4 linked regions of the Homo sapiens genome follow. The protein of the gene in region 1 purifies or fractionates together with the protein of each later gene. This does not show direct contact. Each region holds a gene or a part of one and is shown in the gene's direction. Other genes may lie near its edges.

Region 1 (7,036 bases):
TGTAGATCATTGACTCACAGATTTCCAAGCAAGCCCTCAGTGAGATTGAGGGACGACACAAGGACATTGTGAGGCTGGAGAGCAGCATCAAGGAGCTTCACGACATGTTTATGGACATCGCCATGCTGGTGGAGAATCAGGTAAGTGGCAGTGAGTCCCAGCGTGGGGAGGGAGGAGAGGAAAGCTCAGGGTCTACTGAGAACAGGGAGAAAGGGAATACTGGAAGCCAGTGAGGTAGGGTGGGAGAACCATTGGGAATTTGCATAAAGGAGAAACAGAATCCCATGGGAAAGTGTGCATTCAAATTGAATGTTGACACTTTGGGTGATCTTAACCTTGTCATTCTTGCCTGTCCCTTTGGCCTTGCAGTCGTTGCTAGTTGATACAGGGTTTGATGTGTTCTGTCAAGTACCCAGTTTTCCTGGATTTTTGATTTTTTTTTTTTTTTTAAGATGGAGTATTGCTCTGTTGCACAGGCTGGAGTGCAGTGGCGTGATCACAGCTCACTGCAGCTTGACCTCCCAGGATCAAGCAATCCTCCCAGGATTTGTCTTTTTTTCTTTCTTAAAAATCAGAGATCCGGGCTCCTAATGGTGACGTTTTAAAACAGCCTCCTGATATGGACTAGTTCACTGATGACATTGAAAATGTGATCTTTTCTCTAGTTCACAGGGAAGACTCAGGTTTAACATAAATTTTTATTTTTTTCCATTTTTTTTCTGTTTGTATTTTTTTTTAATTTTGGCACCTTTTGCTAAGGCACAGAGCAGACAACAACATGAATGAAGGAGTAGCAAAATAGCATTGACAGAAAGACTCGAAACACTCGTGGTGCTAGTTTGACAGCTTACTTTGTCCCAGGCATGCTTGCTCGGGATAGAATTCTGGATTGCCTGCATAGGGCGCTAGTTTCGCATAGTTAGATGGTTCCTAGTTCTTATGGGACAGTTAAGTGTGCCACAGGGTCATGGTGCTGTGCACTGTTGCCATGAACTTCCAGCTGCTCTGACACTTGGGATAGGAGAGAAAATTGCTTCCATAGTAGGCAGACTGCACAACCTAGTTGAAGCTCGAGCACAGCTTGACTAGTTTTTGACATTGGTTCCCTGCCGAGGGCCTGGATGCTTTCCCCCCATTCCCTACTGGCCTCTGAGACCATTTCTCAAGTCCCTCCATCCCACCTCTTCTTTTCCCCCACACTGCCTTGCCGAGGAACTGGCTTGAGATTCAAGTGGTGGTAAGTGCCTTGTTCTGTTTACAGACTGCCATAAAGTGATAGAGTTGGGTTGGGTAGTTGAGGAGAATTCCTAAAATGCCTAAGATTAATTGGAATGATCAAACTTCCCTGTCAGGAAGTGATTGCTAGGAAATGGTTGGGAAGCTTATCAAGAGACCACTGTCTGGAAGGGAAAATATAACCAAATAGCTTGGGTAAACCCAATGTCTGTCAGTTAAAGGGCCTGGAAATAACTTAGAGAAAGCAAATGTTCCCCACCTCAGATAGTTATTGAGCACCTACTGTGTGCCAGGCACTCTTCTGCAGTTAGTGAATATACTCAATTCAGGCTGAATGATGTTGATTCAGGTCTGAATGACCAGGAAGAGGCCAGCATCCTAGTGATGTCCTAATAACAATGAGATATCCTTATTTTGGTTCCTCTCCATGTGCTTAAGTGTAAAAAAAATAACAAAGGTTGTCTGGGGATATCTCAGAGTATATTTATAGGTAGTTACTAGGTATCTAGATAGTATGTTCTGGATGCCTGGTGGAGTGCTGGTCACAGAGAAGTAGTAAAATTCACTGAATGTTTCTTGAACAAGTGACTGCCACCCCACCACCAAGGACTGTGAATGGGTGTCCTATGGAAGGCCATGCATCAAGGTTTGTGGATGCTCTTCTTGCCACTGAAGATTGTAAGAAAGAGAATCCCTTCCCCGCATTGGCTAGGACTGACCTGAGACGTTTACTTGGTGTGATCAGAGTCTGTTCTTTGCAGGGTGAGATGTTAGATAACATAGAGTTGAATGTCATGCACACAGTGGACCACGTGGAGAAGGCACGAGATGAAACGAAAAAAGCTGTGAAATACCAGAGTCAGGCCCGGAAGGTGAGACTCTCCTGTGGCCTTCAGAGAAGAGAGTCCATTTTGTTTGCTGTGTCTCGCTCTTTCTCTTCCCTCTCCCTGTCTCTGTTTCTGCTGCCACCACCTCTTGCATCTGGGGAAAGGGATCCATGATTGACCGTATTGAGAACAACATGGACCAGTCAGTGGGCTTTGTGGAGCGGGCCGTGGCAGATACCAAAAAGGCTGTCAAGTATCAGAGTGAAGCCCGGAGGGTGAGCACCTTCATCTCAACTGTCCTTCGTCTCAGCTGTCTTACTAGTATCTCTTCTCCCTGGCCACCCCTACCTGTGTTCTTGAGCCCATGCCTCCCTCCCTGTCGTAGCCTCATCAACCCCTCCCTCAGCTTTTCCTAGAGACAAGCTGCCTGCCCTTCCTTCCCAGGTGTGCCTTGCATGGATCTGGCTCACAAGCTATCTCCCCAAAAACCCACACTTGAAAGGCAGTTCTGTAGGATGGATGCATGGCCCAGGTGGTGCTGCTAATCTTCTCCTGGACTTAGCTCATGAGGCTTTCAGATGTTACACTTGACTCCTCTGTTCAGAAACCTTCTCTTCATTGTCTTCCACTCCAGGCGCCCAAGCTCCGCCTCCCTTCTCTTTTTCTCTACCTTGTACCTAGCTCATGCTAACTGCTATCTATACATTATGTCATATCTGATGGAGCACCTGTTATTTCTACTTTATAAATGAGACAGTTGAGGGTCAGGGGCTCAGTAACTGGCTTCAGGCCACCTAGTAAGTAGAGGCACTGGGATTCAAGTTCAGATCCCAATCATTCTGTTTCTACCACACCACTGTATTTGCCCACCCTCTGGTGCCCCTGCCGCTTAAGGACTTCTAGGCTTCTGTGCTCACGACTGTGGTTATCCAGCTCTGGTGGCGTCTGCTTTTTAGACTTCTCTCCTTTGACTGGTTCTCTTGGGCTCTGATATTGTTGTTGTTTAGTTCTTTGTTTTTCATCCAACTTTACCTATTGCTTATGCAGGGATTTAGGGGACTGGGAAGTTATTTTACATGGTGAATCCAGGCTGGGTGGCATTTTCTGATATCCAGGCAGTGTACTGGGTCTGACAGGTAGGAGTATGGGCAAAAGTAGGAAATTAGAACTCTATCAAAAATGCCTTTACATTCCCTCTTAAAATGGAAAAAATCAGTCAGTGACTTTTTATCTTGGCCAACTGCTCCTTAGAGACCCCACGATAGTGGCTCTGATTCTATCTGTCCACATATACAGAACTGCAGTGTGAGCTGAGAGCTGAGAGAGGCCCCATATTTCCCTCTGCTGGCATTCCTAGCCTAGAAGTAATTTAAGAAATTTAAACTGTCCTAGGCTGGGTGTGGTGGTTCACACCTATAATCCCAGAACTTTGGGAGGCCGAGGTGAGAGGATTGCTTGAGCCCAGGAATTTGAGACCAGACTGGGGAACATGGGAAGATCCTGTCTCTACAAAAATAAAGAAAATGAGCTGAGCATGGTGGTGCATGCCTGTAGTCCTATGTACTCAGGAGGCTGAGGCAGGAGGATCACTTGAGCCCAGGAGGTCGAGGCTGCAGTGAGCCATGATCATGCCACTGCACTCTAGCCTGAGTGATAGAGAAAAACCCTGTCTTAAAAATAAATGAAGTATCCTAGAAGGATGTCTGTATGTAGAGATGTAGGCCTCTTACTCAGACTGGTAAGATATTTTCTATGTAGAGGTGACAGGGGTTAGGTTTTGGATGAGTTGTTATTTTTTTGGTTGTTTGTAATAATGATTTGTTTTTGTCTTATTCCTCTCTCCAGAAATTGATAATTATCATTGTGCTAGTAGTTGTGTTGCTGGGCATTTTAGCATTGATTATTGGACTTTCCGTTGGGCTGAATTAAGAGTGGCCTAAGAGGCTGCTGCACTGAAATGTAAGTAAACGAGTGGTTCTTGGGGACTCTGGATTTGGCTCCTCAAGAGGAAATTAGCTTGGGATTTCAAATTCCTCTTCTTTCCCCCTATGATTGTCCTTGGACACACTGAGCTTTCTAAAACTTTCAGTAGCCTGTGGATTCTTTATCTCCTTATAGTTCTATTGGTTTCTGGCTGCAGTACGTGGATGAGCTCTCCGTTTGTTCTTATCCTGTAGATTCTGTCCCCAATCTCTGTCTTGTCGTATTACCACTTCTCCCAGCATACCTGAGCACCCCAGGTGACTCCCCTTACTCAGGAAGCATGCTTCTAAGTTGGGTACATCTCTGTCTTGGATCTGGAGTCTGTCTTCTGAATTCTTACTGATTTTCATGGATGTTGGGCTTTACTTTCTGTATCCTTTTCAATGTAAATGAAACTCTGAATTGGGATTTGGATCTGCAGAGTTTTCTCTGTTGCTGAGTGGTTGGGTCTTAAATGATGATAGTTAACACACTTTTGAGTGTTGTGTTGTACCAGACAATGTACTAAACACCTTATACACATATCATTGAATCCTTACAACATCCTTTGAGACAGATACAGTGTTATGCACATTTTACAGACAAAGAAACTCAGTCAAAGAGAATGTTGAATAACAGGGCCAAGTTCACACAGCTAATAGTGGACCTAGCTTCTCTTTGTAAAAGAAGGTAGCCACTTATCATTAACTATAAAGCCTGGAGAACCTTAGAGGATAGCGATGCTAAAATTTAGACTATTCATTTTCTTGAAAATTTGTTAAAAGTGATAGACTTACCACTGAATCACTGGTTTTTTTTTTTTTTTGAGACGGAGTCTTGCTCTATCTCCCAGCCTGGGGTGCAGTGGCATGATCTCGGCTCACTGCAACCTCCGCCTCCTGGATTCAAGCAATTCTCCTGCCTCAGCCTCCTGAGTAGCTGGGATTACAGGCACATGCCACAGCGCCTAGCTAATTTTTGTATTATTAGTAGAGATGGGGTTTTGCCATGTTGGCCAGAATGCCTTGAACTCCTGACCTCAGGTGATTTGCCCGCCTAAGCTGGGATTACAGGCGTGAGCCACTGCGCCCGGCCTGAATCAAAACAAACAAAAAACGTTTTTGTTGTTGTTGTTTTTTGTTTGTTTCTCATTCTTGTCCCCCAGGCTGGAGTGCAGTGGCGCGATCTCAGCTCACTGCAGCCTCCGCCTCCTGGGTTCAAGCGATTCTCCTGCCTCAGCCTCCCGAGTAGCTGGGATTATAGGTGCCTGCCACCACGCCCGGCTAATTTTTGTATTTTTAGTAGAGACGAGGTTTCACCATGTTGGCCATGCTGGTCTCCTGACCTCAGGTGATCCACCCGCCTCGGCCTCCCAAAGTGCTAGGATTACAGGCGTGAGCCACTGCACCCGGCCTGAATCACGTTTAATAGTAGTGAGCATATCAATCTGGTTATTGGGACTATTAAGACTTTTGTGACTTTAAAACAAACAATTTTTTTTTGTTGTTGAGATTGTGTGTTGCTCTGTCGCCCAGGCTGGAGCGCAGTGGTGCGATCTTAGCTCACTGCAACCTCTGCCTCCCAGGCTCAAGTGATCCTTCCGCCTCAGCCTTCTGAGTAGCTGGGACTATAGGTGTACACCAACACGCCAAGATAACTTTTATATTTTTTGTAGAGATGGAGTTTTGCCATGTCACCCAGGCTGGTCTTGAACTCCTGGACTCAAGCGATCCACTTGCCTTGGCCTCCCAAAGTGCTGGGATTACAGGCATGAGCCACTGCGCCCAGCCAGTGACTTTTAAAATATTTTTCTGAATAAAATATAGCATGCATTGTTAAAAAAAAACCTATAAAATACAGAAAACATAAAACTAATGAACTTTTAATATTATTGCTGATAACCTTGTGGCACGTTCACATACTCAGACATAGTTTTACATAGTTCAGACTATATTATCCAGTTTTGTACCCAGTTAGAAAATTATAAGCATCATTCCACAGCATTAAAATCTCTTTGTAAATCTAATTTTCAATATGAGATTGTGGCCATACTCTCAAATATTTAACATTTTCACAATGTTGGAGGTTTATGTTATTTTGCTGTAGCTAACAGTGTGACTAACCTTATTTAATATTTTTCTCATTTAAATTTTCTCTTTATTACCAACTCATATAAGTTGGAGTACTGAAATAACAGGTATAAACATTTTTAAGACTTGGCACATAATACCATGCCAGTACCCAGAGCTGTGCCTTCCTTTTATATTTGTTTCAGTGTGTCTCTTCTTATTCCTCCTCCTTCCATGTGACCAGGGGATCTAAAAGTCAGCTTATTACAGCATTGAGCATTCAACTTCATCTTGAAAGATAAGCAACAGTGAGATGAACAACCTCTCATAGACAGGTGGTTGGTTGATTTTTTTTTTCCCCTCTTTTTTCTGGCACTTGGAGTCTAGCCCTTGACTTTTTTGTATGTGAACTTTAAATTTTGGTTTGGCTCTGAACAATCTGATTGAAATAGATGTTGAAATTTTAAAAAGATATAAGAGTTGTTATTTTTCCATATCCTTGGATGAAAGATGATATGCAAATTTGTGGTGCCCCTTTCTATTCCTAATTCCAGGACTTCAGAAGGTATATGAATCATTTTTCAGGACGTAACTCCTCAAAGAGGAGCAGACTAATTAATATGTTGTTTTTGGTTGACTAACCCTATCTTTAACCTGCTAAATTGCTGAGCAGTTGTTAAGCTGCTTTTTTTGTAGTGTATTCCATGTTCCCTAACAAAGTCAAGACTGATTGTTGCCTAGGTCTGGACTCTCCTCTTCCTCCATGTCACCCAAGGGAGAGAGGTCTCTGAACAGGAGGGTAGACAGTGTGTTTATATTTCCTAGTAATGTGCCAGCTGCTTGCTCTAAGATCATAGTATCCTCATTTTACAGACGGGGAAAGAGCAATGAAGTTAAGGAACTTGCCCAAGACTACATAGCTCATAAGGTGGAGCAGCCATA
Region 2 (7,036 bases), on another chromosome or scaffold:
TACTGGAAACCATAACGAATGGCTAATTTGCTTACTACACAGAGATATAATAGAAATAAGAAAAAGACAGTAGGAAAATGGACAAAGGATATAAAATTGCTTACAAAAAAATGAATGGCCAAAACTATAAAAACATTTTCAGCAGTATTTCCAAATAAAAATACAGAAATCTAAAAGAGGTGATTTTTCACATGTCAGATTAGCAAATGTTGAAACATTTATAACCCATTATTGGCAAGAGTAAAAATTTAAAAAGGGTACTCATATATTGCTGGTGGGAACATAAATTGATGTAATGTTTATAGAAGGCAGTTTAGCACTACCAGAATTTAAATGAATGTGAGATTCTTTGATCCAGTTATTCTTTTTTTTTTTTCTTGAGACGGAGTCTCGCTCTGTTGTCCAGGCTGGAGTATTGGAGTGCAATGGTGCGATCTCGGCTCACTGCAGCCTCCACGTCCTGGGTTCAAGCGATTCTTCTGCCTCGGCCTCCCGAGTAGCAGGAACTACAGGTGTGCGCCACCACGCCCAGCTAATTTTTGTATTTTTAGTAGAGATGGGGTTTCATCATATTGATCAAGCTGGTCTTGAACTCCTGATGTCATGATCCACCCACCTCGGCCTCCCAAAGTGCTGGGATTACAGGCATGAGCCACCGTACCCAGCCCTGATCCAATTATTCTATTGCTAGTCATTTACTCCTTTTTTTTTTTTTTAAGCTCTGTTGAACTTAATAGACATTTACTCTTTAAATATACTTTTTTTTTTTTTTTTTTGAGACAGAGTCTCACTCTGTCACCCAGGCTGGAGTGCAGTGGCGCGGTCTTGGCTCACTGCAACCTCTGCCTCCCGGGTTCACACCATTCTCCTGCCTCAGCCTCCCGAGTAGCTGGGACTCCAGGCGCTCGCCACCATGCCCGGCTATTTTTTTGTATTTTTAGTAGAGATGGGGTTTCACCGTGTTAGCCAGGATGGTCTCCATCTCCTGACCTCATGATCCGCCTGCCTTGGCCTCCCAAAGTGTTGGGATTACAGGCGTGAGCCACTGCGCCCAGCCTAAATATAGTTTTTTTTAAAATAAAAGAGTTCAGTTTAAAAAATATATGTAAGAATGTTTATTGGCAGTATTTTTTTTTTTTTTTTTTGAAACAGAGTCTCGCTCTGTTGCCTAGGCTGGAGTGCTGTGGTATGATCTCAACTCACTGTAACCTCTGCCTCCCAAGTTCAAGTGATTCTCCTGCCTCAAACTCCTGAGCAAAGTAGCTGGGACTACAGGTGCGTTCCACCACACCGGCTAAGTTTTGTGTTTTTAGTAGAGACGGGGTTTCGCCATGTTGGCCAAGCTGGTCTCGAACTCCTGACCTCTAGTGATCCGCCCACCTCAGCCTCCCAAAGTGCTGGGATTACAGGCATGAGCCACCCTGCCTAGTCTTGCAGTATTTTTAATAGCAAACAAAATGAAAACAACTAATGTGTTTATCAGTAGGGAATTTATTAAATTGTGATAGTCATAAGATAATATTCTATGCAGCTATTAAAAAGAATGATGTAGATTTCTTTTTCCTAATATGGAAAGATTGCTTGATACTTTATGAAGTACAAAAAGCAAGGTGTACATCAGAATGTATATTATGACTTACTTGGCAAAGTGAAAGAAATAATAGATAAGCTTGTATATGTAAAAACATATTTCCTGGCCAGGTGCAGTGGCTCACGCCTGTAATCCCAGCATTTTGGGAGGCCAGTGTGGGTGGAACTGTTGAGGTCAGGAGTTCAAGACCAGCCTGGCCAACATGGTGAAACTCCATCTCTATTAAAAATACAAAAATTAGCTGGATGTAGTGGCACGCTCCTATAGTCCCAGTACTAGGGAGGCCAAGGCACTAGAATCGCTTGAACCCAGGAAGTGGTGTTTGCAGTGAGCTGAGATGGCACCACTATACTCCAGCCTGAGCGACAGAGCAAGACTCTTGTCTCCAAAAAAAAAGAAAATAATAATTTCCTGGAAGAAAATACAAAATGATGGTAACAGTTATGAGGTATGGAGCAGAATGTTTTGTTTTCCTTTGTTTCACCTTTATTTCTTTTGGTGCTCTTTTAATATTCTCCTCCATGTTTATGTGTTACTTTTGTTTTTTAAAAGGTCAACAGGGACTCTGGGAGACAAGATTTTGATTTTCTTCTTTATCTACATCTCTGAATTTATGAAAAGTAATGAAGTACTTTTAACAGTGGTACAAAAATAGTAGAAAATGTTTAAAGATTATTTTGTTCCTTATAATTCTCTTGATTCTGTTCTTTTTTGTTTAGGAATTAAATTTTTTGTGAGAGCTCCAAAATGATGAAATTTGAAAATAAGCTCTATTAAGTATACTACTAAGTAAAAAGAGCCTCTCAAGTTTTCTCCTAGACTATTTGAAGTTATTTTATCTCAGAATTTTTTTCTTCTTAATTCTGCCTCGTAAGACAGAGTACTAGGAGGTACAAAGGATAGTGATTTAATGGCACTGTTTCCCTAGCACTGAATTATTTTCACTTGAAAGAAGTTGGTCACTCTTCAGGAAAGTAATTTTAAAGTTATTTTTACCTTTGGTTAATTTGATTTCTTAAATAGCAGTTTTCTTGACAAATTTACAGTGTGATGACGATACATAACTGGTTCAGTGAGATGAAAATCCATAATTAGCTTCTGTTGAGACTGGATGTTGATTTATTACAGGATTATACACATGAATTCCATAAAACCAAAGCAAACTTTATGGCAATACGGGAAAGGGAGAATCTTATGGGATCAGTACGAAAAGATATTGAGTAAGTTACTTTTTATATTATTTTGTAGAATATTTATTCAGATTTGGCTTTAGGATATGTTCACGGTTAATTGCAAATTGAGTGGCAGAACCGTGGTTGAGATTTTAGGGTTTCCAATTCCCATTTCACTGTCTTTTTAACATTGCTGCTACAATGTCATCCTAATCTACTTTTCCATTTTTATCTCATGCTTCCTCTTACTTTATCATTGGCTCCTGCCAACCTTGACTTTCCTGTCTTAATTCAAAGTCCAGCTTAGGTGGTTCTTCATGGTTCTCTGATCTCTTACCTCCCACCCTAAGAATTATAATGTTACTTTTATGATCCTCTGCAGATGTGTCAAAGAAAAAAAAATTCTTTAATTGTAACATTATCAGTAACTGAAGCTCCCTATGTTTCTCTTCCTGATTATCACCTATCCCCTGGCCCTCTCCCTTGTCCCAACAGTTACATATTACAAACAGTAATATGTACAAACTCACTCATAGCCTTATGTTAAATTATTTAAGGACTCCCAACATTCTCATACTGATCTCAATCTATAATTTTAAATATTTGTTTTTTTCTTCTGTCCCTTCACCTCACCTTTAATGATCTATTCTAGCATTTCATAGCATTTTTGGAAATTTTTTTACAACTGAACACTACTGACAAAGTTAAGTCCCATGGGCGTCTCATTGAAGCTGAAGATGTTCCAATTTGGAGCCATCTAATGATACCTGTCATCATCTCATTTGTGATAAATTATGTGATACATTTTATAAACTATGATACACATTTATGGTAAACTGTATATTATGTGTACTCTCGAAAACACTTTCCTAGAGATCCTTTATTTTATTGTAACAGTAACAGTTTCAACAGTAAGATTGTTGTAATATTTTTAGTCCTTCAGGACATTTAAGTCTTTTGTTTAATTTCCATGTAGTCCATTTATATATATGTTTTGAGGAATGCATTGGGAACCCATATAGGGGATGGTCTTTAATGTATAGACACTGAGCCCCCCCATAATTTGTGGGAATCACTAGAATGCAACCCATTGTAATAACTTGCTTTTTGAAAAATGGCCATAAAAGATATGTTCATCTATTCATTAAACTGTCTCCTGAGTATCAACTCTGAGTTAGTCACAGCAGAAGGTAGAAATGAAAAGACCGGCCAGGCGTGGTGGCTCCCGCCTGTAATCCCAGCACTTTGGGAGGCTGAGGCAGGTGGATCACTTGGGGCCAGGAGTTCAAGACCAGCCTGGCCAACATGGTGAAACCCCGTCTCTACTAAAAATAAAAAAATTAGCTGGGCGTAGTTGTAGGCATCTGTAATCCCAGCCACTCGGGAGGCTGAGGCAGGAGAATTGGTTTAACCTGGGATGTGGAGGTTGCAGTGAGCTGTGATCGTGCCACTGCACTCTAGCCTGGGTGACAGAGCAAGACTCTGTCTAAAAAAAAAAAGAAAGGAAAAGACCAATGTGGTCCTGTAGGAGTTTAGAATCTAGGTGCTAGAGGAAAGTATATGTAGTAGTTTACACAGTATTTTTTAATGTATTATATTTTTTTGGCCTCATAGCAATCTTTTGGTTAAGATAGAAATGATCAGTCTCATTTTACAAAACTAGGTATTGAGACACTTGTCTGAGGTGAAGTGGCTATGAAATGATTCAGTATAGATTTAAATCCAAGTCATCAGTCTCCTGAGTCCAATGTGTTCTTGGTTATATTATTCTGCTTTCCTTGGTGGTGGTTTCTCCTGTAGCACTGCCTTTCAGCCAGTATTTCAGTTTTAACAGCATGTTGGCTGCAGTGAGCCAACATTGTGCCACTGCATGCCAGTCTGGGTAACAAAGTAAGACTCTGTCTCCAAAAAAAAAAAATTGTTCCTGATACTTTATTATTAGTGGAAAACAGAAAAATTAAATTTTTGATAGTAGTGATAAGAGTAATTTTTTTGTCAACTTCAATACACTGAAGACCAAAATGGTTATCCTTAAGTGTGCCAAAATGAGCAAATCTTTAGCTTGATTTCAGTGTTCCTTAGGCTTCAGTTGGTGGACCACATATATTATTGTGAAAGAAAACATTTCATTTCAACAGCTTTCCCACCCTGTGTGCTGTGTACTAAATCAGTCCTAAGTTTTACTTCTACTTGGAGAAAAATGAAGATATCAGAGATAGGAGGTAAAGGAAAAGTAAGATTGTTTTGGTTGTTTGTTTCAGAATGTTGAGTTATTTTGGTGAAAAACAGTAAACTGTTGGGCCTAAATTAGAGATGCAGAGGCATTAATATTTATCTACCTAAAATAGATAACATTTTTCAGAGGGAAATGCAAAGGATTATGTACTTTCATTGTTCATTCAAAACTCTGGAGAGGCTCAATTTTTCTACTTTCAAGATCACTAGGGTCAGTCAATCTGATTTTGTATTCTCTGCCAAAAATGTTTTTAAATTTTCTCTTTTGTCCCAGGTCATATAAAAGTGGGTCTGGAGTAAACAACAGAAGAACTGAGCTATTTTTGAAAGAACATGACCACCTTCGAAAGTAGGTATTGAATGTATGTGCATTATGTGGTTTTCCACGTTTATTAATTCATTTACTTATGTAACCAACATTTTATGATGTTTATTATACTGAGTGCCTTGTCCATGCTAATTCATTTTATTCTCCTAATGACTCTTTTCAATAGAAAAGGAATTGCAACTGTTCCAACCATAATTAGGAAAGATCCTATGCTGTTGAATATTTCACATCACTTAATTGTTACCTTAATATGGTTGTTATTTTTTTTTTTTTTTCTCTGAGATGGAGTCTCGCTCCGTCACCCAGGCTGGAGTGCAGTGACTCAATCTCAGCTCACTGCAGCCGCTTGCCTCCCGGGTTCAAGCGATTCTCCTGCCTCAGCCTCCCAAGTAGCTGGGACTACAGGCGTGTGCCACCATGCCTGGCTAATTTTTTTGTATTTTTGGTAAAGATGGAGTTTCGCCATGTAGCCAGGATGGTCTCCATCTCCTGACCTCGTGATCCACCCACCTTGGCCTCCCAAATTGCTGGGATTACAGGCGTGAGCCACCACCGCACCCGGCCAGTGCATGTGCTAATTCTCTACAGAGAGAGACTGAGACAGGATGAAACTGAATGGAATAAGAGCTCCTGATGAATTAGATGAGTCGTAGAGACTGAAAAGATGGGCTTCGTCATTGCCCTCAGTATGATAACACAAGCTTCTAAATACTTCTCTTAAATCAATTTTTTTTTGTAATTACAAATACTTGCTAGGTAATAAAATAACATTAAAATTATCAGTAAAATATGTTTACAAAATAATGTGAAAAACTTTAGTTTTTCAGTGTTTTTGTATTTCATTTGCCAAGTGCTTTGAGGAAGAAGTGGCAAGATTTTTTTGAAATAACTTTAAATAACAAAAGCTAAATGCCTTTCATAGTGCTCATTTTAGAAAGTATGGATAGTTCAACAACACAAAAAGAAAATTGAAATGACACATTACTACAAATTCTGTAATATTTTTTACTCTTCAGTAGATTGCAAGCTTTTTCCCATATAATTTGATTTTTTGTTTTTTTAAAATAAATGGTGCATATATTCCATAATAAAGATAAACCATAAATTATGTAACCATTTCCCTAATGTTGGCCTTTTGGGTTATGTTCTGTTTTTACTATTATACACAGTAAAGCCTTTGTGTGTATCCGTCATGATTTCCTCATTCTAAATTCCTAAATCAGAATTGCAGGATTAAAGAACACACTCATTTGCAAAGTTTTTCTATAATATTGGCAAATTTCCAAGTTTGATATTTTGCAGTAGGGTCGGACCTTTTATGGCTAGAACTATGTTTAAGCTTTTGCTTCTTCATAAATATTGTTTTTTAATGTTAATGTAATTTTTTACTTGCTCCAAAAGCACATATTTTTGCCTGGAAAAAGAGTAAATCAGTTTTTGTAAATGAATGCCATACTTAAACACACACACACACACACACACAACTTTGTAATGAATTGTTTTTACCAGCTCTCCTTAATACTCTTTTTATATAAAAATAAATGCTGTTAGGTTTTAGCAATTTATGTTATGGATGACAAATTTCTTTTGCTATATGGTGGATAAAGTAACTTTCGTTTTTGGCTTCTCTTTCCCTGAGTCTGTCAGTCAGAAGAAAATACTGACTTTGAATTAGTGTCAAGCTTGTAACTACTTGTTTTTTGCTGGACT
Region 3 (7,036 bases), on another chromosome or scaffold:
TTAAATTTAAATCTGTATATTCGAAGCTAAATATCTTTCGTTTTTTGCACAAAAGAGCAGTTTTTGCCATTATGTAATTGGTAACAATATACCTTTATTTGTTTCATTAAATATTTACCAGCTCCTTTTTAGTATGTCTTGTTGTATGAACTAGTATAGAATATTTAATGTACATTGTGTTTTTGCATGTTTGAAAAAGTATCTAAAAATTATTAAACCAATCATAACAAAAGAAAGCATGTATTAAGCATATTTCACTTTATAATTTTATTTCAGTTGTATTACCACTCAATCCAAAAATTGTATTTTAATGTAGTAGGATTTTATATTAGTAAAATGTTCATGTTTTGAGTTACTCTTTGATTTATCAAATGTGTTCAGTTGGAGAATCGTCCTCAGGAAAGGCTTCAAGGAGCCTTGCACAGCATATTCCTGGCCCTGGTGGCATTGAAGGCGTAAAAGGGGCAGCATCTGGAGTTGTTGGTGAATTAGCACGAGCCAGGCTGGCACTAGATGAAAGAGGGCAGAAACTTGGCGATCTGGAAGAAAGAACTGCGGCCATGTTATCAAGTGCAGAGTCATTTTCTAAACATGCTCATGAGGTACGACTCTCAAACAGATATTTGAACAAAAAGCTCTAGGTAAAGCAAGTGTGAATGTTACTTTATTTTTATAGCTATTGTATTTCTACACCCATGAATTTGCATATATTCATTGTACAATTGCAAGTTCCTGATTTTTGCCACCAGAGGGAACCATTACAGGAATGTATCTCTAATAGCCTTTGGTTTCTTACTATAAGATTATAAATTTTGAAGGAATCTGCCCACCTTCAGGCTTTTGGTAAGCAAAGCTACCAGCTTTGCAACTGTTTCTTAAGGAATGCGATACCAATGTTAATTTTTCTTAATGCCTCAGAGTCTACTACCACTTTGTCCTAGAAAAAGAAATAATTTGCCTCCTTGAGTCTTCCAGATAGATATAAATAACTAAAATTGACAAACCTTTTTATTTAAATAAACAATACTAAGTCCGCGTTGTGGACCAATTCATATGGAGGAGTAGAGAGATGCATTTTGCAATGGTGGACCTAGGAAGTCATGATAGAGCTCAGAAACACACGCTGTAAAGTAGGGATCCCTGACTGGCCCCCTTACACCACATCGTGCTCTTAAAAAGCTGAATTTAAAAGCCTTTACGGGAAATAACACATTTTTCATTTTGACACACAGGCCTGCCTTTCCTTGGTGCTTTACACTAGGTTACTTCACACATCTAGTTCCTAGGCTGGCCCTGGAGGACATTTTGAATTTGTCTGAAGAAACAATTTTAAGGTTGTTTTTATATTTGAGCACCCAATCTGTAGTGGTAGCTCTTTTTTAAATTTTTCAACCAAAAGTCATTTCCTCCTTGCTCAAAAATGCGGAAATCTAGAATGCATGAAGAGGTAACTTGACCTGGAAGATACTTGTCTAGGGCTTCAGAGAGGTTCAGAGATCCTTTATGATTACTTGTACTATACCCAGGCACCTCAGATACAGGCTTGTGGTGGTCAATCTAGGTCAGGATTTTTGTTGTCATAACCCTACACCCGATTGTATGATCTCTACAGCATGTAGCATTTCAGTCAATTTCGGAATATATTCACACTCTGAATATTTAGGAAATATTTAATCTCACACTGTTAACTTTCCCTTCTACCAGTTGTTCTTGAGCCATATTTCAGAGTCTAAGGAAGACAGTACATTGAGGTAGTTACAATCACAGGTTCTTGAATTAGACTGCATGGGCACAAATTCCAGTTTCACTACTGCATTACCTTGGGCAACCCCTAGAAGCTTCAGTTTCATTTATTAAATGGGGAGAAAAACAGTGCCTAGCCCAAGAATGGTTATGACTGAAATCAAGTAGGAAAAGTGTGTCATGCAGTGTCTGGCTCAGAATAGATGCTCAGTAAATTTGAGATGGCAGGAGGAGTAGCATTTTCAACCTTTAATTCGCCAGTTCTTCAAGCATTATTTTTAATTCATAGTACAAAATAAAAATTATCTTACTTTTATATTACTAGCTTAGGTCACCAAATTATGTCACATTTCTAAGAAATCTGTGGAACTTCTAGGCTAGTTCTTAATGGATATCGTATTTTTTCCTCCAAATAGAATAGTTCTTACTGCTTTTAATAAGTTGAAGTAAGCATATAGTAGCACTACAGAATATTGCAGAATGACATAATGTTTTGGAAAAATATAGAAATCACTTATAAATGTTATTGTTCCGGCATTTTAAAAGCATGTTTTTCTTTTTTTTCCCCCTTTAGATTATGTTGAAATACAAAGATAAGAAGTGGTACCAGTTCTGACAACCAGAATCCAATAAGTCCAACTTCAGCCAGAAGGAAAAAAGTTTTCCATTTTTATTACATTCTTTAGGAAAGTTAACGTTAAAGGGATGTTCGTCACTGAATACTGTTCTTTCCTAGCACAGTCATGCACTGTTTTACCTCAGTCATGTGGCTTTAACTGAGGAGTGTTCACACGCACTCGAAATGGAGTATATGGTGTGTGCCAGTTATGAGTTGACCATTTGGGAATTAAACAGGTCACACGTGACAGATGAAGAAACCAAGGGGGCTGCTGAGGAGACCTGGTGCAGGGACTAATCCTGGATCATTCCTGTATTAAACTTTCATATGCCAAAAGGGTTTGTGCCGTTTTATCTGCCATCAGTGTTTGACCTGTTTAGGGCAGAGGCAATAAGTCAGAAGTCTTGAAGTTGAAATAGTTATATGTGTGTCATTGGACTGGATTATAAACAGCTGTCTTGGACTTTCCCTCTCTTAACACTGACTGGTCATCAGTATCATTAGTGAAAAAGAAACAAATTGTTTGTTATCATCTCTTTAGACAGATAAGCTGAATGGTGGGCTTTAAATAATAAAAACATACACATAGTTGACTTGTGTATGAGCTACTCTTGGATTCTTGTTATTATAGACTTGTATTTAGTTCATATTTTGTCAAAAGCAAAACAAGAAGATACATCACTTTTCATTGAAAAGAAAAGTGTAGAGCATGACTGAATTGCTCATCATTCTGGGAGTTTCCATGTAGTGGCTATGCAGTGTGGAAAGTGAGAAAAACCTCCATTGTGGTGAGGAGAATACTTCAATGTCCCTTGTCCTTGTTCTCATTAATTCAGCTAAAGGTGGATTTGACCAAAATAATGCTGGTTAAATTTGTAGAAATGTTGAAATTGGCTGTGTTTTAAATTTTGCTTGAATTTTTATAAAATGTTTAACCAAATGTACCTTTGCATTCTTTAATTAAAATTGCTTAAAAAAAAACTTTCATTATTTCAGTAAAATGCTCAGCTCCCTTTTCAAAATGCCCTTTATTTGCTAACTGTTCCAATACACTCAGGTGATGAGCCAATTAAATGTTAGTGCACATGCTATCGCATGGAAAATTACAAGCATCTGTTGTCAATAATTATATAAGAGTTTAGTCTGATGACCTACAAAATATTTTGTGTAGAAATATACTATAAATCTGTACATATCCTTTCAAGGTTTTAAAAAACCAAAAAGAAAGGAAAATATGTACACTGTGATAACTAAATTATTTCTGTATTGGAATATAATACAATTTGAGACCAGCAATGGACAATGAATGATTGTTTCATAGAATAGCATTACGGGCAGGAAAGAAACCACCTAGTAGATCTAGAAGTAAGCAATCTCAGAATACAGACTAATCTGAGATTATTATTGATTGTTGTTAAAGCAACCCAGCAAAAGCAAAATGGAAGCATTAAAATTAATGTTAATGAAATTTAAATATTGTCTTCTATAAAAAATTCCTTTAAATGATTTTGTTTTTTCATTAAGAGATAATCAGAGCACAAATTGATAGTAAACAGGATGGTTGTTTTTCTATTCTATATGATCATTAAAGGAATATGTAGGACATCTTAACTTTTTCATACAGTCTGTTATGCATATTTTCCTCTACTTTTCATTAATAAAGCTTTTATGTTTACATTTTATAACATGCACTACTAGATGCAAAAGTTTACATCAAAGTTTACTTTAAATATCATTTGGTAGGGACTAAATGTGTGTGATAGAGATAATTGATCAAGCCAAAAGAAATATTTTTTAAATAAGCCCTTTTCAAAAGTTTTTGAATTTATAGAAAGCACCAATGAATAACATATTTCTGTTTCGTTAATGTCAGCTGCCTGAACATTCAGCAGTTTATAAATTGCTTAATTTGTGTTATCTATTATCCAGTAAACCCATAGTTCCATGATATGTCACAGGAATTGTTAGGTCCTATTTTAAAGGTACAGTTTTGTGAATGTCATCAATAAAATCAACAGTTATGGATTTGAAGAAGTTGGGAAAGCATTATGTAGATTAATATACTGGTTGGTTCCCTATCTATGTGGAAGGTCATATTAGCTGCAATTATTTAATTTGCTGTGTTATTTTGTGTTATATAACACAAATATATTTGTATATTAACTTCATTTTTACTGTCATTTTTCCTGTTGTATACAAAATGAACTAATCTTGTAATTATTTTCAAATATAGAAGTATATACATTAGATGGATTTCCAAGATTTTGTAAGAAAATCTTAAATCAGTGTTTTGAGTTATTTAATTTTTAAATTAATCTACAAATTATGCACAACAAACTAGAGACTCAGTTAGGATTAGAAAGCTTAAAGTATGTTTGAGTGTAGGAAATAAGCTTCTCAGAGTTATACTTGATTCTGTCTGTAGATAAGAGACAGTCTACAGTAATAACTAACCCAGGGAATTTACTGTAATTTGAGAGGTAACATCTCTATTTTTTTCTTTTTAAATACAGAAAGTAATAGTCACCAGCAAGCCACGATTTCAGGAAAACTGACTAAAAAAAAAAGTCAAAATAGAAAATATCAGAAAAATGAAAGATTTTTGTGTGCCCTCTCCATATCCTCATTGTTTTTGTTGCATTTGTCCTTGACTCTAAAATCACTGAAGTATTCATGATTAGTAGTTTGTAAGTAGGAAGTGGTTTTTCTGTATGTACCATATATCCAGTTCATTTCAGTTTTCAAACTAAAATCCATATGTATTTGCTGAGAAAGTTATTTGAAATCTTATATTCTGACAAATTCTGTACATTACATCCATTTGAAGTTTTGCATCATCTTAACACTTTTGCTTTGCATTTCAATTGTACAAAGTGTTTCCAAAAAAATGGTTATAGATTCGACTGAGCTATTACTAACTTCTCCATTTGATTTTTTATGGATGTGAAAAATGCTGCTACTTGTCTATGTTATTATGTGTAAGTATATTACAATTTAATTAAGTACAATAGTTTAAAGAACGAAGCAATTTTTTTTTTTTTGGCTTAGAACTTCTTAATTGTAGGTTCCTCTGAAGCGATTTCATGTAGATATGTGAGTGTTTTAAACAAGTCTGAAAGTGTTACATACTTTTAGGTTACAGGGGTGCTGGGGAGACAGCTGAGGAAAGGAAGAATATGTGGAAGACACCACGGAGTTCAAAGTTTTACCCTGAGTTCTATCTTCCATGTATGTTTTGCTTAAGGCATTTCTCATGTGACATTAGAAAAGCTATATCCAAAGGTAAATTTTTTGTGGCAAAGATTTATTTTACACTTTAACTTTTGGGATTTTATTTGTTTCAGCAAAATAAAGAGCACTGAACTTTAAACTTGAATTTTTTCTGCACTTTTTTAGGTAATGAAAACTTTTTATTATCATTTAATCCACATTGCTCAGTTTAAACCAAGTGATACATGTGTATAAAACATACCAAAATCATGAATATGCTGCTAGCTGTACCTTAAATAAACTGATCAGTTTTAAAACCTTTAATAGGGTTTTATATAGATTTAAAAAATAGTAAAATAATCTGCTGTATGTTTCAGTGTTCTTGGTCTTAAATTATTGCAACACTTTCAGATTTGTTTTAAGATCATACAGTAACATGTTATATTTATACATACTGCTAGAAAATATACTTTTAGTTTTAAAATGGAATTTTTATAAATGTACTTTAATTTTAAAATGGTGAACTTGTTAAGTTTAAGTCAAAGTACTTAAAAAGTATGTATATTATCCATACAAAAAGTTATGTTTTACGCTTATAATAAGAAATACTGGTATCTCATATCGAGATACAATTAATTTTAAAAAATCATACATCATTTAAAAATCTTCACACATGAACAGGAAAGATATCATTTCTATGCTTTAAAAAACCCTCTATTGAGCATTTTCAAATATTAATTTTATTTTGGGGGAAAATGCCCACAACAATAATTGCAAGATCTTTCTCAATAGCTTCAGTTTGCTGTTGGATGCCTACCTTAACTATTGTTTTAAAATATAGATATATATATATATATTTAAAATAGTTTTCCAGGTATTTTCTTCTACCTTTTTTAAAAATAAATTTCCAAAAATGAAAACAGAGTTTATGTATTTTTGTCAATGAAGGTTTTTATTTTGTAGTTTATAGAATTTGTTCCTTATCAGTTTGATACTTGATCAACATTCTTAGACTTTTTAATCTGTATTTACTTTGGGGGGAAAAAAGCACTCCTATATCTTAAATGTCCTTCTTTTTTCTTTTCCCTTTTAGGGTATTTGTTCTCTTGGATTGAAATTTATGCCCACAGATTTTTCTTTTCATTTGAAAATGAATGTGAAGATACTGTTTACAGCTTTTGTTAATTGCACTTTTCATCACTCTGATCAATTTCTTGTAAAGTGCTATGGGAATTATTTTTCCTGTGAATATTAATGATTTTACTACTGCCTCCGAAGTTTTAAAAAAGGTTCTGTAGACAGAAAACAGTTGTTGCAACCAAAAACAACCAAAAAAAGAAAAAAAGGGAAAACTGGCTTACCTTTCTCAGATGAATTAAATGATTTTAATAACTTCCCAATTACCAGGGTTATAACATTGCTTTCTTCAGTTATTAATACAGTCAAATTAATTTTAACAATATA
Region 4 (3,853 bases), on another chromosome or scaffold:
GGCACGTACTGAACAGAGCTGGATTCTCTTTTCTTTTTTGTCCAGCACAACACCATGGAGTCTCTGTTAGAGCGAGGTGAGAAGCTAGATGACTTGGTGTCCAAATCCGAGGTGCTGGGAACACAGTCTAAAGCCTTCTATAAAACTGTGAGTACCCAGCACCTGCTGCCTCCTGGGTGTTCTCTCTAGAGAGCAGTCGCAGCTTGCTGCTTCTGGCACTCTCCACTATGAACGGGTCTTTCTTAGACTGTTGAATCATGGTGGATGATTCCTTGTGCGGCAAGAGCCTAAGGTGAGCGCCTCAGGCCCAGGTGGTTGGAGGCAGTTCACTTGGGCGCCGTTGGAGTCGATGCGGGCCGAGGCCTTGTTCCACTCCTGCCTCTGCTCTGCCCTCTGCTGCTCTGGCTGATTTCTGAACTCCTACTCCCAGTCCAGGAAGGCTGGTTCAAGTTCTGATCACCAGAGATTTACTGTTGAATCTTATTCCTCTTTCTGCTGAGTAGACATAAGTCTTTAAGATGCAAGCAATTCAGCCTTCCTGAAGAGGTTCTTAAGCTTTTAATTTCCCTTTGACAGAAAATATTTAATTGACAAGGATGGGTGCTGCTGACTGCCGCTTTCTCTCAGGTCAGTGCTCATGTCTTCCTATGTGGAGATGGCACTGTTGGCCCATGGTTGGATAGTCATAGGGACAAATTTACTTGGTCTGTCCACACACATTTGCTTTCATGTGCACATTGGAGGGAGATGGCTAGGTGGGATTAGGAAGATAGTCTGTGACCAGAAAGCAAGAGAGAAGGTGGCAACAGTGGTCCCCACAAACCACATCCCAAGTGGGAACCACATCTGTTGTCCTCAGGACCATCTTCTAGGAAGAAACACCACCGTGGTGGTCAGATAGCATTGTGTGAAGACAGGAGTGGGGCAAAGTTAAGATATTCTGCCAATCCCATTTGTATTATTGGTCCTTTGTTTGTACCTGGCCTAACTGTAGGAATTTTACTCACTTTTTGATAGCATTAATGGGGTGTGAGAAAAGAAAGGAAAAAGGATCCCAGACTAGTTTTGGAAGCCGGGGCCCGCCTTGTGCTTGGTGATGGGAATTGCTTGTGGACAGCTTCCCTCAAGGCCTCCACCCCCACCCTGTTCTAGTGCTAGTTTCTCTGCCTGGCTGTGTCCTGTGGAGCTCCCTCTGCCACGCCTGCCAGGATTGGGGCTTCCCTTACTTCGTCAGTCCTCCTTCTCAGCTCCTCTTTGTTTTTTTCCAAGGCCCGGAAACAAAACTCATGCTGTGCCATCATGTGATGCAGCCTGCCAGAGGCCCAATGCTGGAATGGCACCATCATTCACATCAGAACTGCAGCCCCTGGAAAAGAAGAGACAGCCATAGACGAGGAGCCAGAGTGGGGGCAGACTGGCCATTTTTATTTTGAAGTTCCTGCGAGAAATGGATGGTGGAAGGGTGGCGAATGTTCAAATTCATATGTGTGGTAGTGATTCTTGGAAAGAATTTGAGGTCCCCAAAGGTGTATTTTTGGGCAAATGAAACCATAAACTCCGACTGGCTTCTGTAGATGCCAAAGGGCTCTTTTTCAGCTAACCCTGGGAAGGCTCTGTGGGAGGGAGGTCGGAGCCAGCTGTTTCTCGATCTTTGGTATATCTTTGGATCTTATTTGTACATTAATGATATTAACACTCCAGTGGGGGGTGGGGAGTCCCTGATGCTAGGGCTGGGGTGGGTGGAGTTTGAAGACTCTTGGGAAAGCCTCTCCTGGGGCCACTGTTGGGGGTGGGAGTGAGCCCACCACAGAGGCCACAGGCAGGCCCCCACTTCAGGCCCAAGGCCTGGGGCGGGGGGAACAGTCACTGGGTCTCAGATTCTGAGACTGTTGTTTAGCTTACCTTTCTGCTAGGATTGGCTTCCCGCAGAGGGCAGGGCCCATCCTAAGCAGCTTCCAAGTCCCACAAAGGTGGCTTGTGGGAGGATTTGGAAGGAGCTGCATTGTGGGCGGGGAGTGTGTGGGTTGGGTTCGTACCAGCAAGTAGACTAGGAACTGAGCCCAGGAAAGGGGGATGTTTTCCTGGTGTTTGGATGGTCAGCTGGGAGTGTCCATCATCAGGGGAAGATCAAACACAGGTGCACTCAGCTGCCCAGGGCCTCTGGGACACTTGCCTTGACTTGCAACTTGCCTTGAACATCACGATCAAAGCAGCAGGTGCTGTGGTCTCTCAAAATTGATTTTTATTTGACTCTGTGGCTCTAAGACTGCCTTGAACCGCCTGAGGCCTATGCATCTGAACAAGTGGGTCTCTCCCTTGAGCACCAGGAGTGGGTGCCAGCCGGCCCCGAGGATTCCCAGCACCCCACCTATGGTCTTGCCAGCATAGGCTTGCTAGTTCCTTCTTGGTCAGAGGTAGCTGCAGAGGGGGGAGGCCAAGGGTTTGGTCTAAGCTGTGCCCTGCCACCTGGCAGGAGGCCCACTCACTGCCCAAGTCATGGCAACAGGCTGGAGCAGCCCAGGAGATGGGCCTAAAATGTTCTGGATCCCTTGGGTCCTAGTGTTATGTTCCAGTCTGCCCACCTGTGCTCAGGATGCAGCCCTGGGATCCAGCACCCATGGAAGCTTCTGCTGGGATGGTGTCACCTATGGGTTTTGAACCAGTGTGGTATGGTCCTTGGGAGCTCTGCTCTGAGCTTGCCACACTGCTGAGAGCACCCACTGTCCTGACCAGAGTCTCAGTGGTCCTGACCCCCAATGTGGGCAGGGGCTGGGCAGGAGGGTGGGGTCTGCTGTGGGTTCAGAGGACTCCACCTCCTGGCTGGTTTACCTGCTGCTGCCCATTTTCTCTGGGTACTGCTGGCCAGAGGACTTTAGCCTACCCCTGAAGAGCCTGTCCATGTCATTTTCCTACTGCCATAGATACCCTAAGCCCAGGGCCCCTTGAGGCCCAGACTCAGCCTGCCCACTGGTGCCGGAGACGGAGTGGAGTGGGCCTGGATCCGAGGGATGCTACCTCTCCCTTTCCCACTTGAGGACCCTGGGGAGAGATGGGGGCGGGGAAAATGGAGGTATGAATTTGGGGTAAGAGGAAGTGAGATCTCCGCTTGCAGGTCAGCCCCTGCCTTGCAGGGCGGGCTGGCTTGACTCAGGCCCTGTGAGATAGAGGGCCCAGCCCAGCCCCACCCACAGATCCCCTGCTCCTGTTGTGTTCTGTTGTAAATCATTTGGCGAGACTGTATTTTAGTAACTGCTGCCTAACTTCCCTGTGTTCTATTTGAGAGGCGCCTGTCTGGATAAAGTTGTCTTGAAATTTCACAGTGGTCCTGTGCTTTCTTTGTGCTTCAGGGGAATCCTTTCTTCACCAAGCCCTTCCCCCGGGGGAGAGAGTGGCCTCATGCTGTGTGCCTGTGGGCCTGCCGCATGCAAGGGTCCAAGTTATCCTGACCAGCTCCTGTCCAGGAGAGGTAGCTGCAGGCCTGACTCCTTCACCTCCTTTCTATAGACCTTGCTAGCAGGAACTGTATTTTCTTTTTTGCTGTTAACCAGGTGAGGGAGCCCTGGAGTAGAAGAAGCCCTGTCATTGCTGAATCCTGTTGCCTGGTCTTAGCTGCAGCCAGGAGACCCACCCTAGGAAAGCTGCCTCATAGCTGCAGAGCCATGGGACAGGAGGCCCCATCCCCATCCTGATCCCGCTGTAGGCTTCCTGTCCCTCACCGCTGACCCCAGGGTCAATCTGAGACCACCTGGCATCCCACCAAGCACAGGTGGCAACTTTTCAGGAGCAGAGGGGGCTCCACAGGGTACCTGGAAGCTTCCTGGTTCCTGGAGGAGCCAAAGCTGACCCCTGCTTT

Evidence for each region.
Region 2: the proteins of STX3 (region 1) and GOSR1 purify together in Homo sapiens (affinity purification with mass spectrometry; 4 studies listed by BioGRID and IntAct, with this or other methods). This does not show direct contact.
Region 3: the proteins of STX3 (region 1) and STXBP5 purify together in Homo sapiens (affinity purification with mass spectrometry; 4 studies listed by BioGRID and IntAct, with this or other methods). This does not show direct contact.
Region 4: the proteins of STX3 (region 1) and YKT6 purify together in Homo sapiens (affinity purification with mass spectrometry; 4 studies listed by BioGRID and IntAct, with this or other methods). This does not show direct contact.

What each region holds. Positions count from the first base shown.
Region 1 is NC_000011.10:59,793,375-59,800,410, forward strand, and holds part of STX3 (syntaxin-3), read left to right. Parts: intron 1-5; coding exon 6-140; intron 141-1,997; coding exon 1,998-2,108; intron 2,109-2,227; coding exon of another isoform or gene 2,228-2,338; intron 2,339-3,908; coding exon 3,909-3,992; 3' UTR 3,993-4,022; intron 4,023-6,300; exon of another isoform or gene 6,301-7,036. UniProt on the Homo sapiens protein: Potentially involved in docking of synaptic vesicles at presynaptic active zones. Apical receptor involved in membrane fusion of apical vesicles.
Region 2 is NC_000017.11:30,487,407-30,494,442, forward strand, and holds part of GOSR1 (Golgi SNAP receptor complex member 1), read left to right. Parts: intron 1-2,719; coding exon 2,720-2,811; intron 2,812-5,272; coding exon 5,273-5,347; intron 5,348-7,036. UniProt on the Homo sapiens protein: Involved in transport from the ER to the Golgi apparatus as well as in intra-Golgi transport. It belongs to a super-family of proteins called t-SNAREs or soluble NSF (N-ethylmaleimide-sensitive factor) attachment protein receptor.
Region 3 is NC_000006.12:147,382,397-147,389,432, forward strand, and holds part of STXBP5 (syntaxin-binding protein 5), read left to right. Parts: intron 1-381; coding exon 382-602; intron 603-2,317; coding exon 2,318-2,359; 3' UTR 2,360-7,036. UniProt on the Homo sapiens protein: Plays a regulatory role in calcium-dependent exocytosis and neurotransmitter release. Inhibits membrane fusion between transport vesicles and the plasma membrane.
Region 4 is NC_000007.14:44,210,978-44,214,830, forward strand, and holds the end of YKT6 (synaptobrevin homolog YKT6), read left to right. Parts: intron 1-45; coding exon 46-147; intron 148-576; coding exon of another isoform or gene 577-591; exon of another isoform or gene 592-631; intron 632-1,269; coding exon 1,270-1,305; 3' UTR 1,306-3,317; downstream 3,318-3,853. UniProt on the Homo sapiens protein: Vesicular soluble NSF attachment protein receptor (v-SNARE) mediating vesicle docking and fusion to a specific acceptor cellular compartment. Functions in endoplasmic reticulum to Golgi transport; as part of a SNARE complex composed of GOSR1, GOSR2 and STX5.